Homo sapiens: one gene and its partner. The protein of the gene in region 1 interacts with the protein of each later gene in a pairwise test. Each region holds a gene or a part of one and is shown on either strand. Other genes may lie near its edges.

Evidence for each region. The genes of interacting proteins can lie anywhere in the genome.
Region 2: the proteins of TBC1D1 (region 1) and RIN1 interact in binary tests that used the Homo sapiens proteins (3 or more experiments, as listed by UniProt).

The regions. Positions count from the first base shown.
Region 1 is NC_000004.12:38,012,789-38,020,367, forward strand, and holds part of TBC1D1 (TBC1 domain family member 1), read left to right. Parts: intron 1-1,720; coding exon 1,721-2,185; intron 2,186-4,605; coding exon of another isoform or gene 4,606-4,665; intron 4,666-5,565; coding exon 5,566-5,655; intron 5,656-7,579. UniProt on the Homo sapiens protein: May act as a GTPase-activating protein for Rab family protein(s). May play a role in the cell cycle and differentiation of various tissues.
Region 2 is NC_000011.10:66,333,435-66,340,500, forward strand, and holds the start of RIN1 (ras and Rab interactor 1), read right to left. Parts: upstream 3,001-7,066; 5' UTR 2,969-3,000; coding exon 2,883-2,968; exon of another isoform or gene 2,857-2,882; intron 2,725-2,856; coding exon 2,544-2,724; intron 2,443-2,543; coding exon 2,328-2,442; intron 2,249-2,327; coding exon 2,176-2,248; intron 2,065-2,175; coding exon 1,973-2,064; intron 1,818-1,972; coding exon 1,080-1,817; intron 791-1,079; coding exon 485-790; intron 225-484; coding exon 93-224; intron 1-92. Other genes in the region: BRMS1 (breast cancer metastasis-suppressor 1), read right to left, coding at 4,234-4,455, 5,287-5,351, 6,687-6,779. UniProt on the Homo sapiens protein: Ras effector protein, which may serve as an inhibitory modulator of neuronal plasticity in aversive memory formation. Can affect Ras signaling at different levels. First, by competing with RAF1 protein for binding to activated Ras.

The DNA of each region.
Region 1 (7,579 bases):
AAATTTTGGCTATTTTGTTTTTTTTGAGACAGTCTTGTGCTGTCACCCAGGCTGGAGTGCAGTGGCACAATCTCGGCTCACTGCAACCTCCGCCTCCCAGGTTCAAGCAATTCTCCTGCCTCGGCCTCCCAAGTAGCTGGGATTACAGGCACCTGCCACCACGCCCAGCTAATTTTTTGTATTTTTAGTAGAGACGGGGTTTCACTATGTTGGCCAGGCTGGTCTCAACCTCCTGACCTCCTGATCTGCCCTCCTTGGCCTCCCAAAGTGCTGGGATTACAGGCATGAGCCACTGCGCCTGGCTGAAATTTTGGCTTTTAAAATCATTTAGGTCTCATCAGGTATCAATTATTTAAAATGTAAAACTTTCCTAAAGATCTTTTGACTCTTTGTGTGATAAAATACCTTGAAAGAATAGTCATAATCTTTATGACAGAGAGATCTTTAAGGTGTATTTGATATGAAGTCACAAAGAGAAAAATCTTTCGAGTCATTGGTTTTGGGAATTATGTCATGAACACTGAATATAAGGATACTTTTAAAATTTAAAACCACCTCCTTTACTGTATGTGTTGATCTTTGACCTGAATTGGAAGGGGGATTTTTAAAATTTCTCTATAATGTTGTTAAAAAGACATAGGGCCTGTGGGTATTGGGCCTTAAATTGAATTTTCCTTATATAGAAAAATGGAAAAAATTGGTTTAGGTGTTAGGTCATAACAAAAAGTAGGCCCTTTTGAAGATTAAATTTATGCCTGCCTTGGCCTTGTTTAAATCCATGCCTGGCCACAAATATTAGTGTTGTGGCTGTCCATCATCTGAGCAATTGCACAGCTGTTTCATTCACTGCCGTGCGGATTCATCTTTATGTCTATGCTGCTTTGAAGAACCTTCTCAGAGGTTAATGATGAGAGGATGTAGCAGTAGGGACAACACCGTGGCAGATGAGGTCTTTTATTACATTCTTTTAATCATGATTTTCAGCATTAGAAACCAAAAGCTTTATAGTCTCCATGTGAAGAATCCCTGGTGAGCCTGTTTGCTGTGATAATATTAGTCATGGGTTACTCAGTCCTTGATTAAAACCTCCTAGCTTTGTTGACTTGCTAGTCACTATTCACCTGCTAGGAAATATAGGACTGAGTTGTCATGGAAGGAAATAATGGTGCTGGGATTTGAATAAATAATTTATGAGATAATTTCAGAGCCTTTGTCTTCTTCATCCCACCATTTATTAAAGAAGACTTTCCAAAGTATACTGCCATGAGATCTAGAATAATTGAGTCATGTTTTGTGAACCACGTTGGAGACAGACTTCTCTGGGAGGCGACAGCTTCTCCAGAGGAGGCCTTTAGCTTTGGAGTGGGACCAGCCTGGGCTTGAATCCAAGGCCTGCTAGGTTGGGCTGTGTGTGTTCCCGGGCTGGTGGTTTAACCTTGCAGGGTGCTGTGGGCATGTAAATCCTCCAGCGCAGCCCTTGGCAGGTAAGAGGTGCTTCATAAGTGTCGTCCCCCTTCTCTTTTCTGTGGAAGCTGTGTGTTCACCTCCCATGGGAAGACATTCCTAGTCCCCTCCCGTGGGCTCCTCCTCCAGTGGGCTCCTCCTCCAGTGCTCCGCAGTGGAGTAGCCAGCGGGGCGTCCCGAAAGAGCATGGTGCATTCATTCCGTGAGTGCCAGCCACACTGCATGTTCCAAATAACACGCCTCTCTCTCTCCTCAGGTGCCTGAGATCATCAGCTCCATCCGTCAGGCGGGGAAGATCGCCCGGCAGGAGGAGCTGCACTGCCCGTCCGAGTTCGACGACACGTTTTCCAAGAAGTTCGAGGTGCTCTTCTGCGGCCGCGTGACGGTGGCGCACAAGAAGGCTCCGCCGGCCCTGATCGACGAGTGCATCGAGAAGTTCAATCACGTCAGCGGCAGCCGGGGGTCCGAGAGCCCCCGCCCCAACCCGCCCCATGCCGCGCCCACAGGGAGCCAGGAGCCTGTGCGCAGGCCCATGCGCAAGTCCTTCTCCCAGCCCGGCCTGCGCTCGCTGGCCTTTAGGAAGGAGCTGCAGGATGGGGGCCTCCGAAGCAGCGGCTTCTTCAGCTCCTTCGAGGAGAGCGACATTGAGAACCACCTCATTAGCGGACACAATATTGTGCAGCCCACAGATATCGAGGAAAATCGAACTATGCTCTTCACGGTAAAATATCACCCAGCTCGTGCACAGCCCCAGTCTGCCATACGCTTTCAAGAGAAAATCTGCTTTATGGAGCGAAGATTCTTAGTCAATTGCTTTTGATTTATGTGTGAATCCATATATTTTCATGCTGAACAATTCTATTCTTAGGATAAGCTCCTTCCTTTAGCCATAAGCCTTTACAGTCATCAGGGAGAAACATGCCCATGTGTAATTTTTATCTCACCCGGTAATTATAAAGACACCTTTTCAGTGTGGAAAGAACAGTGAAAACGTGTAAATGAGACCAGCAGAGAGATTTAAAAAATATATATGAATTTCAGATGATATATTTCAACAGAATCTTTTAGTTGGAAAACACCCTCTCTACTATTAATATTTTTATTTATGAAACATTTACCCTTTGCTAATCAGGAAGAGTGGCTTTGTGAGTGACATTATATTTGAAATTTATACCCAAACTGAAATATTAATTTAGCCAATGGCTTGCTTGCTTTTTTTTTTTTTAGAAAAAAAGTGTTAAATTGACAGCCAAATGCTAGAAAAGGACTGAACATGGGGGGCTGTCCCAGGTGGGTGGGGTTCCTGGTTCCATGCTGATCTGGGCTCTTCTGAATGGGTGTGCCCTCCCTGGGAGTCCCCTGGGTCTGAACGGATGAGATGTGGAGCTGTCCCGGCAGCGAGCCGGTCTCTGACAATGGAAGAGCTAGTTTCTTCCTTGGCCTTCTCTTTGGCTTAATGCTGACTGACGTTCTGTAGAGAACAAAATTATCTTAAATATAAAGTCTCCTTCTTGTGTCTAATTCAGGGCACAGGTGAGATGGCCAGGGGGTAAAAAACCAGCTACCTAGGTTAGTGCAGTGTGGATGTGTGCAGGTTTAAAACCAAGGGGGTGCACCCAAGGGTAAATAGGGCTGATGTTTTCATCTTTTGACCATTGATCTAGTGTACCGAAAAGAGTAGTCAGATTTGTGCTTTAATTTGTGATCTGCATCTTTTAAAAAAACTTCCTTGGTGACATTGAGAAAGCTGCTCCCTGCATTTATTTATAAGTACTGACTGTTTGACTGCTGTGCTAACGTCCCTTGCCACATGCTGGAAATGCAGCCGTGAACAAGACAAGTATGTTCTCTGCCCACATGGAATTTAGATTCCAGTAAGGGAGACAGGCAACTGAGTGCACAAATAATTATCTAATTATAATTGTGGTAAATGCCGTGGAGGAGAAGTACAGCATGCCTGAGAGCATTTCTCAGGGTAATCAGGAAAGGCTTCTTTGAGAAAGTGATTTTCACCTAACACAAGGTTTCATTGTGGCCACCTGGGAAGGTCTTCTGGGCTCACAGAGCAGCAGATGAGAAGGCCCTAAAGGCAGGGATGGTGCCTGGTGCCTGGAGAATCCCAGAGGCCTGACTGCCTCCTTTGCTCAGCATTCTTCCCTCGAGTTGTCACGGTCTTACCTCCTCTTGCTTCCTTTAGGTCTCTGCTGAAATGTTGACATGGAGGAATAATCGTATCAGTAAGACCAATAGCAGCCTCACTTCCTGCTTTTTTGCTTTATTTTTCTCCATGGCATTTTTACCATTTGACACAATTACAAATAAACAAGTAAAAGATTTTATGTCCCACATGCCCCCAAGAAGATAGGCTTCAAGAGGGCATGGATTTTCATTTCTCTGTTCACTGCTGTCGTTGGTAGTGCCTAGAGCACAGCTGTTGGGTGAGAAATAATTCCAGATGGCCGCACTGAAAACAAGGAAGGATGGTGCGTAGAGATGGGGCTGGGACTGGAGGCAGCCCCATGAAAGTTGTTTTCATCAGGCACAACTTTATGGGTCTTGGTCAGGGTTTTGTTTTTTATCCTGAAAGGAGTGGGCAGTCACTGCATGCTATAAAACACAGTGTGAAATATCTTTGGCTACAGAGCCAGGATACTTGGGGGAGGGCAAGAGTAGGATGGGGAGGGGAGTGAAGCTGTTGTAGTAGTCCAGGTGAGAGATAGTGGGGTTGTGGTAAGTGCAGTGGGAGTGGAAGGGACAGACATGCAGAAAGTCAAATTAATGGGATGTACAATCCTTTGGATGCCATGGGGAAGGAGAGGGATCTCAGGAGCCCCACCCAACTTTGGATTCTGACTTGCTCTTTACAACCCAGCCATAGCTAAGTAATAATGCCTTGGAGCCTCTCACCTTATGAGATTTTCAAAGGTTATTTTTAAAAATAAGTAAGGACTATCTTCATTATGTAGGTAAAGACAGTGACTTCTAAAGAGACTAAACATACTCCAAATAGATACTTATTCGTTGTTTACAAATAAGGAGGATATTGTGTTGGCTCCTACTCTAGAGAGAGACACAGTCTAGTTTAGAAAGATGTTGCATGTTAAAAATGAATTAGTTTTTCATCATCCTTGGTCTCCACAGAAGGACAAGAGTAAAAGGCTACCTGCCACTCTCTGCTGGCTGAAATACAGTTCAGAAACAGTAAGTGTGCAAAAACAATTCAGAATGCAAAGTCCTTGCCCCAAACAGAATGCACGTTTCTTGGGCCCCCTCATTGAGAGTATAATTCCCCTTGACTTACACCCCAGTTTCCAACAAGCTTGTGTATCTGATTTGTATTTTACATCAAAGCGTAAAGAGTTTAGAGGAGGAGATGGGTCTGGGAGTTAAGAATGGCAGCGTCAGGATGTGACCACTGACTTCTTGGTCCTGAGGAGAAACTAAAGCTGTAGAAACCAACACACACTGAAACCCAAGAAGCTTAGCGCTCCAGAGACGAGGAGTCTAAAAGGCAGCCTTTCACAGCCTGCAGGGGCGTGTGCACACAGAGTAGGTTGGGTATTGCAACACAGCAGTCTCCTATAATGCATGTCTATTAGCATGTCCCAAGGCAGTAAGAGGATTGTAATTGATGCTCATACTCTAACTTGAAAAGGTCCGGTCACTAGTGTATGTGAATGCCTCACATGTAATATGTACTAAACAAATGGTAGATTCTTTTAACAATAATTTAAAAAGACTTGTCAGTAAAAATCATTCAAAAGTATCTTGGAAGCTTTGAAAGAGTAGATTCTGTTTTCTGGAAGGTTCACTTATGCGGAGACCTCAGTTTTTAGGGGGATGTGTGGATCTTGAGGCCTATTGCTAACTTTTGGATATCTGGTTCTTTCATCTCAAGGAAGATGGCTGTCTTATCTAGGTGAAGGCACTAATAGATGTGTCTTATGACCTGAAATCCAGAGGATAAGAGGGGACCTTTGAAATGATTTCTACGATGATAGAGTCAGAATTTTATAGGAGCTTGTCCCTTTTATTCTTTATTTTCATAGGTCATGAAATGAGAAAGTTTGAAAAGCTAGATTTTTTTGTTTGTCTTTTAAGATTGGCCAGTCTGAAGTTTACCTCATCAGTCCTGACACCAAAAAAATAGCATTGGAGAAAAATTTTAAGGAGATATCCTTTTGCTCTCAGGTAAATGGAGATGGGTTTTTTTATTCAATTGCAATGGAATTTTTAAATGAATTTCTATAATATCTATCATGTAACAAATGCTAAAGGTTACAAGGTGTATGTTTTCTAAGTACTGTACTTGATTTGTGTTTCGCTTTTCTTCTTTGCTTTGGTATGTTAAGGTAAATTATGAATATAATTTTGAAATTAAGAAATTTGCTCTTAGCAACAGTAATGGACAAAATAGATCTACTTTTAATTTTCTCAGTTATTGGTAGTAATAATCCACAGTCATGACTTCCAGATGCACATGTGTGTGTCTTTGTGCATATTACACATATATATTTACACATTTCACACAAATATATCTTTTTATTAGATATATTTCTACTTTACAAAAATTTGTAACTTTTTTGGGTACCAATTGTCAGTATTCTCCCTTCAAATATAGATAGTGCTTATCTTTGACATATATATTTACACATTTCACACAAATATATCTTTTTATTAGATCTATTTCTACTTTACAAAAATTTATAACTTTTTTAGGTACCAATTGTCAGTATTCTCCCTTCAAATATAGATAGTGCTTATCTCAGAGTACAGTGTCTACTTGAAAACTTTTTTCTTGATAATCTTCCAGGTGTTTCATAGAGGGATTTTGGAAGAATCTATCAATTAAGATTAGCTGTGCCAGTTTTACTCAGGATCTTCCTAACAAATATGAGATCACTTAAGGTTATATTTGCTTTTTTTTTTAAACTCTGGATTTTTCATTTTCATAATTGATAAAATATGAAAATGTCAGTGTTGATTTATAATGTGATCTACTTAAATATTCAAAAGGGACTTTTCTGCAAAATGTGAAAATAAAGAATGTTCTTTACAGATTGAATAGGGAACCATTTACAAAGAAAAAGCTTTGCTAAATCATATTTCCTTAAGTGGTAGCCTTATGCTTAACTTGCTACTGGAGAAGATTAATTGAGATGGCAAAGCATGTTAATGATTGCTCATTTATTGGAAAATATTTGGCCTGAAAGTGAGATTACCCATAGAGTTTTTAATCCTGATTTGCTGCTATTTCTGTTGAAATATGAATGTTAAATGTTTACATTTTTGTGTGATAGCTTTATAATTTCCTAAAGAGTGTAGTTTACAAGTTTATATGATTACCTGAACATTAAGCTATCAGCACTCACATCTCTGCATGATGATGCTTTCAGAATACATTGATGTATTAATATTTATGGCAGACGTTTTATCTGTATTAAGGTGCCTCTGATAGCTGATGATTTTAAAACACATTTACATATTAATATTTATTAAAAATAGCTCTTATGATACCATGGTAGAGCCTTGGCCTAATATGTTTAAAAGCTCCTCTACTCTGTGTGCATGTAATTTTTGACTCTTTCTTTATTCCAGTTCACTTCAGTATTTACCTACTTATTTTAGGAATACAAATATATTTTAAATATTTTTTTAACCTTTGGGTGTGTATGTGCTTAGTTGTGTTTCTTCATGAATCTCTGGTCTGCCTTTGATTTTTTGAGTGGTTTTTATTCTTTAATACCTATGTCTCAAACAAAACAACAAACAAATACTAAAATGAGCACTAAAACTTGAATTTTCAGATCTTATTTTTCTTATTGTTGTGGGAGTAATCAAAGGAACATTCTAGTAAACCAACTTTATTTGAGATGTTTTTAGACTTTTTGAAATTTTAAAATATCAGAGAAAATAGTAATTTCCTAGTGTTTTTTAAAATTGTGCTGTGTAGGCCAGGCGCAGTGGTTCACGCCTGTAATCCCAGCACTTTGGGAGGCTGAGGTGAGTGGATTACCTGAGGTCAGGAGTTCGAGACCAACATGGTGAAACACCATATCTACTAAAAATACAAAAATTAGCCGGGTGTGGTGGTGCATGCCTGTAATCCCAGCTA
Region 2 (7,066 bases), on another chromosome or scaffold:
GCTCAGGCTGGGTGTGGGGCACCCCATCCCCTCTCCCCTTCCCTGCTTATTCAGGGCCCACCCAGACAGGGAGGTGGGTGGGGGTCCCTCACCCTCTCCAGTAAGCAGGCTGGGCTCCAGCAGCTCCGACATGTACTCGGCCTCCAGCAGCAGCTCAGGAAGGTCACAGTGGGCCAAGACGAGGCTCAGCAGAGGCAGGAACTCGTCGGCACCCGCGCCCTCCCCTGTGGGGACATGGTGAGAGGAAGAAGCTTCAGGTACAGTCCTTGCTTTAGGCAGTGACCCCTCCCCATGCCCTAGCAACCATTGAGGGGCTTCAGAAAGGATGCGCTCCTCTCTAGGCCTCAGTTTCGCCATCTGCAAGAGGGGAGGGTGGGCTCATTCTCTCCTGCAGGGCTGTTCTAGGGTCCTGGGGACCTGCCGCTGGGGGGCCCGCCTCTGACTCAAAGGGGCAGGGCAGGGTGAGGTGGTGGCAGGGACATACCTTCCTGGGTCCTCAGGGCCATGTAGAGCAGCTTGCAGGCCTGCAGGAGCCGCTTGACCTGGGCGCTGGGTGAGTAGGTGCGGAGCAGCTGCAGCAGCTTCTGGCGCACTTGCTCCAACTCTACTGGGGAGGGCAGGCTCAGGTGGGACCCGAAGGCTCCGGGGCCCTGGGCCCGGGCCAGGCGGAGGCCCTCAGCTAGGCGGCCCAGGGAGCCGTCTGCGGCAAGCCGGCGCCGCAGGCGGGCTGCCAGGATGGGCCGGAGAGGCTTGAGCACAGAGCAATGCAATGACTTCTCCAGGACATGTTCTGCCGGAGGGACAGGGAGGGGTCAGGGGAAGACTGGGGGTATGGGGGGCAGAGGCAAGGGGAGAAGGGAGCAGGGGTAGAATCGGGGAGGAGAGGCAAGGAAAGCAGGAGGAGGTAGCCTGGGTGAGACGGAAGAGTTGGGGGAGAGAGGGGATGGAACTCTCTCGAACAGTGGTAAGACAAGATGGATTTGTAAAGCAGCAGAACAGAATCAGACAGGCTGGCGCTGTGGAGGGGAGCAGAGGGTCGGATGGGGCAGTGCTGGAGCTATGGAGAGACGGAGCCTCACCCAGCCTCTTAGGCGACAGCAGCTTCTCAGGGCCCAGCTCCGCACTCAGCATGGCCCGGGCCCGGCTCAGCGCCTGACGGATGCCCTGCAGCTCCTGGGGCTCGGGCCCAGCCCGCACCTGGGTCAGTAGGTCCTGCACCAGCTGGCCCGCGGCTGTGTGTCGGTCCTGCATCAGTGCTGCCGCAGCCCGGCCCACCTGCCGCTCCGGTGCCAGTAGGGAGCAGAAGGCGGCGCTCATGGACCGAAGCAGAGGTCGTCGGCGGCCCAGGTGGGGTGAGGTCGCTGGGCTCCCCCGGGACCCTGGCACCCCCTCCTCCTCGGAGCTGCTGGGGGAGCCGCAGTCCACCTCTTGGAGGGAGGGCATAGGCGGAAGGCTAGGGCCACTGCCTGCTGGCACGCGGTACCCCACTGAGCTCTCCCTCCGTAGCAGCTGGCAAGGGGGCAGCCGCTCTGTCTGGCTGGGGACTGCCCCTGGCAGCACGGGGACGGGGGGAGGTGGCACGGCAGGTGGAGACAGGGGGCTGGAGGTCTCTGTGGACACGCGCACTTTGAAGCTTCTCTTGAATTTCTCCCGCTTGGTGGGCCCTAGGTCCCCCGGGAACAGGGGGTTGAAGAAGCACAAGGCGGCTCCGGTGCCCTGGTCCAGCTCTTGAGGGGACCGGGCCTTCAGCTGGGGCAACACTGGGCCTCCAGCCGGGCCCCGCTGAGCCTTGATGTTGAGGGAGGAGCTCCAGAACTCTAGGGAACAAGAAACCGACTGGGGCCTCCGGGACTGGTTAGGGGAAGTTTCCCAACCAAGGCAAGGCAGGGGCTTCGGGCGGTGTGCTGCGAGCCTTGCCTTCCCCTCGGCCTCAGCTTGTTCATCTGTGCAATGGGTGGCAGGAAGCCCTTACCAATGCCCAGATGGGAGATGGCCTCCAGCTCTTTGTGAGTGGCTGCGTGGTGGATGGCTCTGGGGAGCTGCAGCGGGAGGAGAAGGATGTCCCTGAGGCCAGAGAGGGGAGCAGAAGGGAGTGAGGGCCGAAGAGGGCGGGAAGGATGGGCTGTCCCAAGGAGCAGGGCCCGTGGACACCAGGCACCCTGCGGGCAGACTCACCGGGTGTGGCAGTAGGCACAGATGAGCTGGACTAGGTCTGGGAACATGAGCTCCGAGCCCTCCAAGGAGACGCCTGAGAGAGGAGGGAAGTGAGGTGCTTCTCTGGGGAACCTCCCTGCTTCCAGCCCCTTCCCGCCAGGCCAGCCCCTCACCGCCAGGGCTCTCCAGGATGTAGTGGCTGGAGACGAAGGAGGGGCCACTGGCTTCAGGCAACCGCATGCACAGGGCCTGGCACTGGCGGGTGTTAGATTTCCGCACGAGGAACGTCTGCAAGTGGATAGGGCTCAGGCAGCTCAGGACCTTGGCGTCCCATCCCTCTCCCTCCCACCCCTGGCTGGCCAGTCCCTGGAGTGTGGGGCAAGACTCACCCCCGGGGGCTCGGTCCTCAGCATGTGCAGTGCGGCCGCTGCGTTGGCTTGCAGCTGCAGCCACACGGGCCGGGTGAGCAGCAGGCGCTCCCGCAGGCTCACAACGCGCCCCGGCCGCTGCGGCCCGCCTGCCTGCCCGCCGCTGGCATTGGGCACGTCATACAGTGGGTCCTGGGCTGGCCTGGGGGCAGGCACCCAGATCTGAGCAGGGAGCCAGGGGCTGGGACCCTTGCTCTCCTCTTCCCCACTCCCGGGTTTCCCACTTTCTCTATCCCCGGATAGGCCCTCCTCTCGCAGCCCCTCCCTGCCCCACCTGGCTGCCCTGCCAACTTCACTAACTTTTCTCTCGCCAGGTGCCCAGTAGTGAAGCTGGACGGGCTGGGGGCTCCAGGAGAGCCCGCGCCTGACTCTCCAGGGCTTTCCATGGCTGGGAGCTCCTTCGCTTCAGGAAGAGAATCCAGTCCCAAGGCAAGGCACGCACATCCCCAGTGAGTAACACTTCCTGAGGGCGGTCCGCCTGTCACACCCGCCAGTTAACTCTTGTGTGTCCACCCTGCCTGGCCAGTGCCCGCCTCCTCTGTTCTGGACCCTGCTTTGGGGGTCAGGGGTCCCCTCCATGCTAGCCCTGCTCTGAGGGCCCCAGCTGGGGGATGCCACCTCCACACACGGCCTCCTGCAGCCTCACCAGCTACTCACATTGCACACGTGGGCGGGAAGTGGTTAAGCGGCCTCAGTCCCCACAGGCCCCAGCCATGCTCTGGGGGCACCTTTGGCTCTGTGGTCAGTTGCTCATCTGCCCCTGGCCTCAGGTCAGCCTTGTGGGAGAGCACCCTCTACTGTCCATAGATGACTCATTCCTGAACCTGGGTTTTAGGATTTTAGGTTGCCATGGAGAAAATATGCCATGTCTCCATGGAAACCAACCTATTTGCTTAACTGAGGTTCTGGGGGTGGTTCTGACACTCAGTGCTAACCAGGGGGAGTCTGGCTGTGAGGTCGTCAGCACATGGCGGTGCTGCCGGCTGCCTCCCACGCACGCAGGCTCTGCCAGCCTGCCTTGCCAATCTGCCAGGCAACTGGGACAGGTGCAGACATGACCCAGGCTCCAAGCACACGCATCCACCCTCCCCGCCGAGGCACTCTCCCGGTGCCATATGTTGACTCTGCCCAGCGCCAGGCAGCCCAGCGCCCACCTCCCCCTCCCCAGCCTGGCCCCACGCACAGTGCTCTAGCCTCTGCTGGGTAGTGTGAGGAGTGGCAATCTGCAGGCACCCTAGAAGTCGGCCTGGTTCAGGTGCTCCCCACGGGAGCCCTGATTCTCTTGCAAGGTAAATCACACACACACACAGGGCACGCCAGAGTCCCAGGAAAGGTTTTAATTCCAGTCCTTGGAATCTGAGAAGCAGACACCAAGAACTGCCCTGAGAACACCTGGGGGGCCTGGCATCTTGCCTCCAGATCCAGCCAGGGTGGACAGACCCCCAGATAATCACGTCTGACTCAGAGTTCCCGCACAGTGGAAACTGGCTCCCTGGCCCTGAGGCCGGACAGCCTGCATCCAACATCAGCAAGAGGATGTGGCTTTGACTTCGGCTGTCTTCTCTGTCAGGGGAGCCCCAAGAGATGGATCTTCAGGAGTGGGAGGTGGCAGGCGGCTCAGGGATGGAGACAGCAGCCTTGCCTGGTCAGGTCAGCTCCACGGCCACAGCTGTGCAGGCCTCGAGGAGGGCAGAGGAGGAGTCCAGGCCAGTGCCAGATGGAGTGGGAGGGCCCAGCAGCACCACAGGAGCCTGGCTGGGCAGACCCTGAGGGGCCTGTGGGTCCGCCTGTCTGCAGGAGGAAGACGAGAATCCTGGGTGCAGTGCCAGCTGCTCTGAGGGTCCCCCTGGCTGTGAACAGCAGGGTCAAGGTCCTGTGCATATGTGGGAAGAAGAAAACTGTCACCAGTTAGGAAGCTGAAAGGAAGGAGGCAGCCACTTACTGAGTGGCTTTGGGCTGGCCCAGAACAGGCCTCCTGGGCAGCTCCACAGCCCTCCCTGACCCCTCCTGAGTGGGAGCTCCATCAACCCAGAGCTTCCCCAGCCCCATCCTGGTTCCTGCTCCTCAAACTCCCACAAGCCCCTCAAATCTAGACCATCCTAACTTTCTTGAGCCACTGATTCTGACACAGTCACAGCCTTTCTCTGGGCTCCTTCCTGGAAGCTGAGCTGAGGAAAGGTGATGGCAAGGGGGCAGGGAAGGCCATGCAACAGCCATGGTTCTTACCATCCGATTTTCTCTTCTGAGGGGACACAGCTGCCCTAGCCTGGGTGGGTGAGAAGAAAAGCTCCCCTGAGAGCCCACCTCCAGCTTGGCAATCCCTGCCCCACCCCCCACCTCTGTGGCTTGTGGGCTGTTGCCTCAGTGCTGTGCCCCCAGGACCGGGAGCATAGGCCCCACCCAGGCAGAGCTCCCATGCTCCTGACTGCTGGCCAGCTCAGCGGCTCTCCCGCCTCCCCGCCACCCTCCCACCCCATCAAAACCTGCCCCAGAACGGGAAGGGGCTGACACAGACTAGAAATCCCTTTTCCCAGGGCCGCCTTGAGCAAGAGGACTTGTGAGCCAACTGCGATCCAGGGACTCTGGGCTGAAGATGGGGAAGCCTTGGTGAGCAGAGAACTCCCAGGCCTGCAGATGGCAGAGCTGCTGCCAGGGTGGGGGGCCCTGAGGTGGGGCAGGTCACGTGGGCAGCAGCGGCCCCCACCTTTTTGATGGCTGTCCAGTCCTCCAGGATGTCGATCTCTTGAAGCATGTACACGATGTATGGGCCTGTGGTGGGGGTCAAGGAAGCCTAGTGGAGGTGGCAGGTGACGAGGGCAGGGCCACCCACCTGACATTCAGGAGTGGGGGTACAGCGGACAGCATGGAGTGGGAGCTGAGGACCTGGGTCCGAGGTCAGGTTCCACCTCCTACCTCTTAACCCCCTGGTTCCAGGGGTCGTCCTGGAACCAAGTCTATGGAGGACACCAAATGTTGTTCCCTGTCCCTTGCTCACCCTCACCTCGTCTTAGGTCAGCTGGCTGAGGCCCATCCCATCTCACTCTGCAGCACTGGCCCTAACCTGGCCCCTTCCCTGATCCAAAGACAGACGCAGGGCTTATCCCTTCAGAGACAACTCTCCCTCCCCCAGTGCTCCCTACTTGATGTCTCCATGCCTTCACCTTCCATTCACTCAAGTCATGGCCTTCCAGATTCCTCCCTCCCTGCCTGGGCCTGCTCTCCAGCACCAGGTTGCCATAATGACTAAGACTGGCTGCTGCAGGAATACCCTCAGGGGTGCAGGAGGACTCAGCTCTGCCAGGACAGATGAAAGCACAGCAGGCCCTGGACTAAGCTTAAGCTAGCCCTGCCTAGGAAGGGGTGGAGGCAGCCAGTGCCCTCTGGGATGTGGGTACCCCATGGTAGGGCACAGAAGCACACAGGAAAGTGAAGCCATAGGCACCAGGGTAAGACCAGAAGAGGCCTCACAGAGGAGGTAACGTTTGAGATGAGCCCTGGACAGTCGGGACAGGCAGGACTTCCAAGAGGAGGGTGGGATATGAGCAAAGGCTCCCCAGGGAAAGCTGGGGACCCGCTCGGACAACCCCGGGAGATGGAAAGGCCTCAAAGGCCAAACCTCACTCAGGCTCAAGTGCAGTGGCACCATCACGGCTCACTGCAGCCTTGATCTCTCAGGCTCAAGCAATCCTCTTACCTCAGCCTTCAGAGTAGCTGGGACTATAGGTGCACACCACCACGCCTGGCTAATTTTTGTTATTTTTTCTAGAGATGGGTTTCACCATGTTGCCCAAGCTGGTCTCGAAAAGAACTCCTGGGCCCGAGCAATCTACCCGCCTTGGCCTCCCAAAGTGCTGGGACTGTAGATGTGAGCCACGGAGCCCAGCCCGTTTCTGTTTTCCTAGGGTTCACATAGCCCAGAGAGACCCAGGACCCCGTAAGAAACTGCTGACAGCTGGATTTGCCTGGACATATTCACATGACACCAAGCAACCACGAGTGCATCTAGTGTGACTGTCCTCCATGTCCCCTCCAACCCCCTCCCCTGGGTCTGGAGTTGACCCTTACATCCTGCCCACTTTTAGGCCACCTTGGGTGAAAGGATACCAGAAACCAGAGGTGCCTTCTTCCTCTTGCTGGGCGGCAGGGAGTCCCAAGACCTGGAGCTGCCTCTGGCGTGCAGTTTGTCATCCCACCATTCTGCCCCGAGACCCAGAGTTAGAATTGGGGTGCTGGCCCACAGGATACTCCCTTTTCTGTAGCCTCTGCCTCCACCATGGGCCGGCCTGGCCTCATCTCCCCTGTCCCATCACCACCCTGGGCTTGGGGTAGAAGCCCCTTAGGGCTGTTCAGGTCCTGCCTGCACAGCTGCACAACCCTGGGAAGAGGTCACTGCACTTCTGTGAGCCTCATCTGTTTAGTGGAGAGTGGGATGACGACAATTCCTGCCACCCCAGGACTCCACGTGAACACAGGTACTATGAACA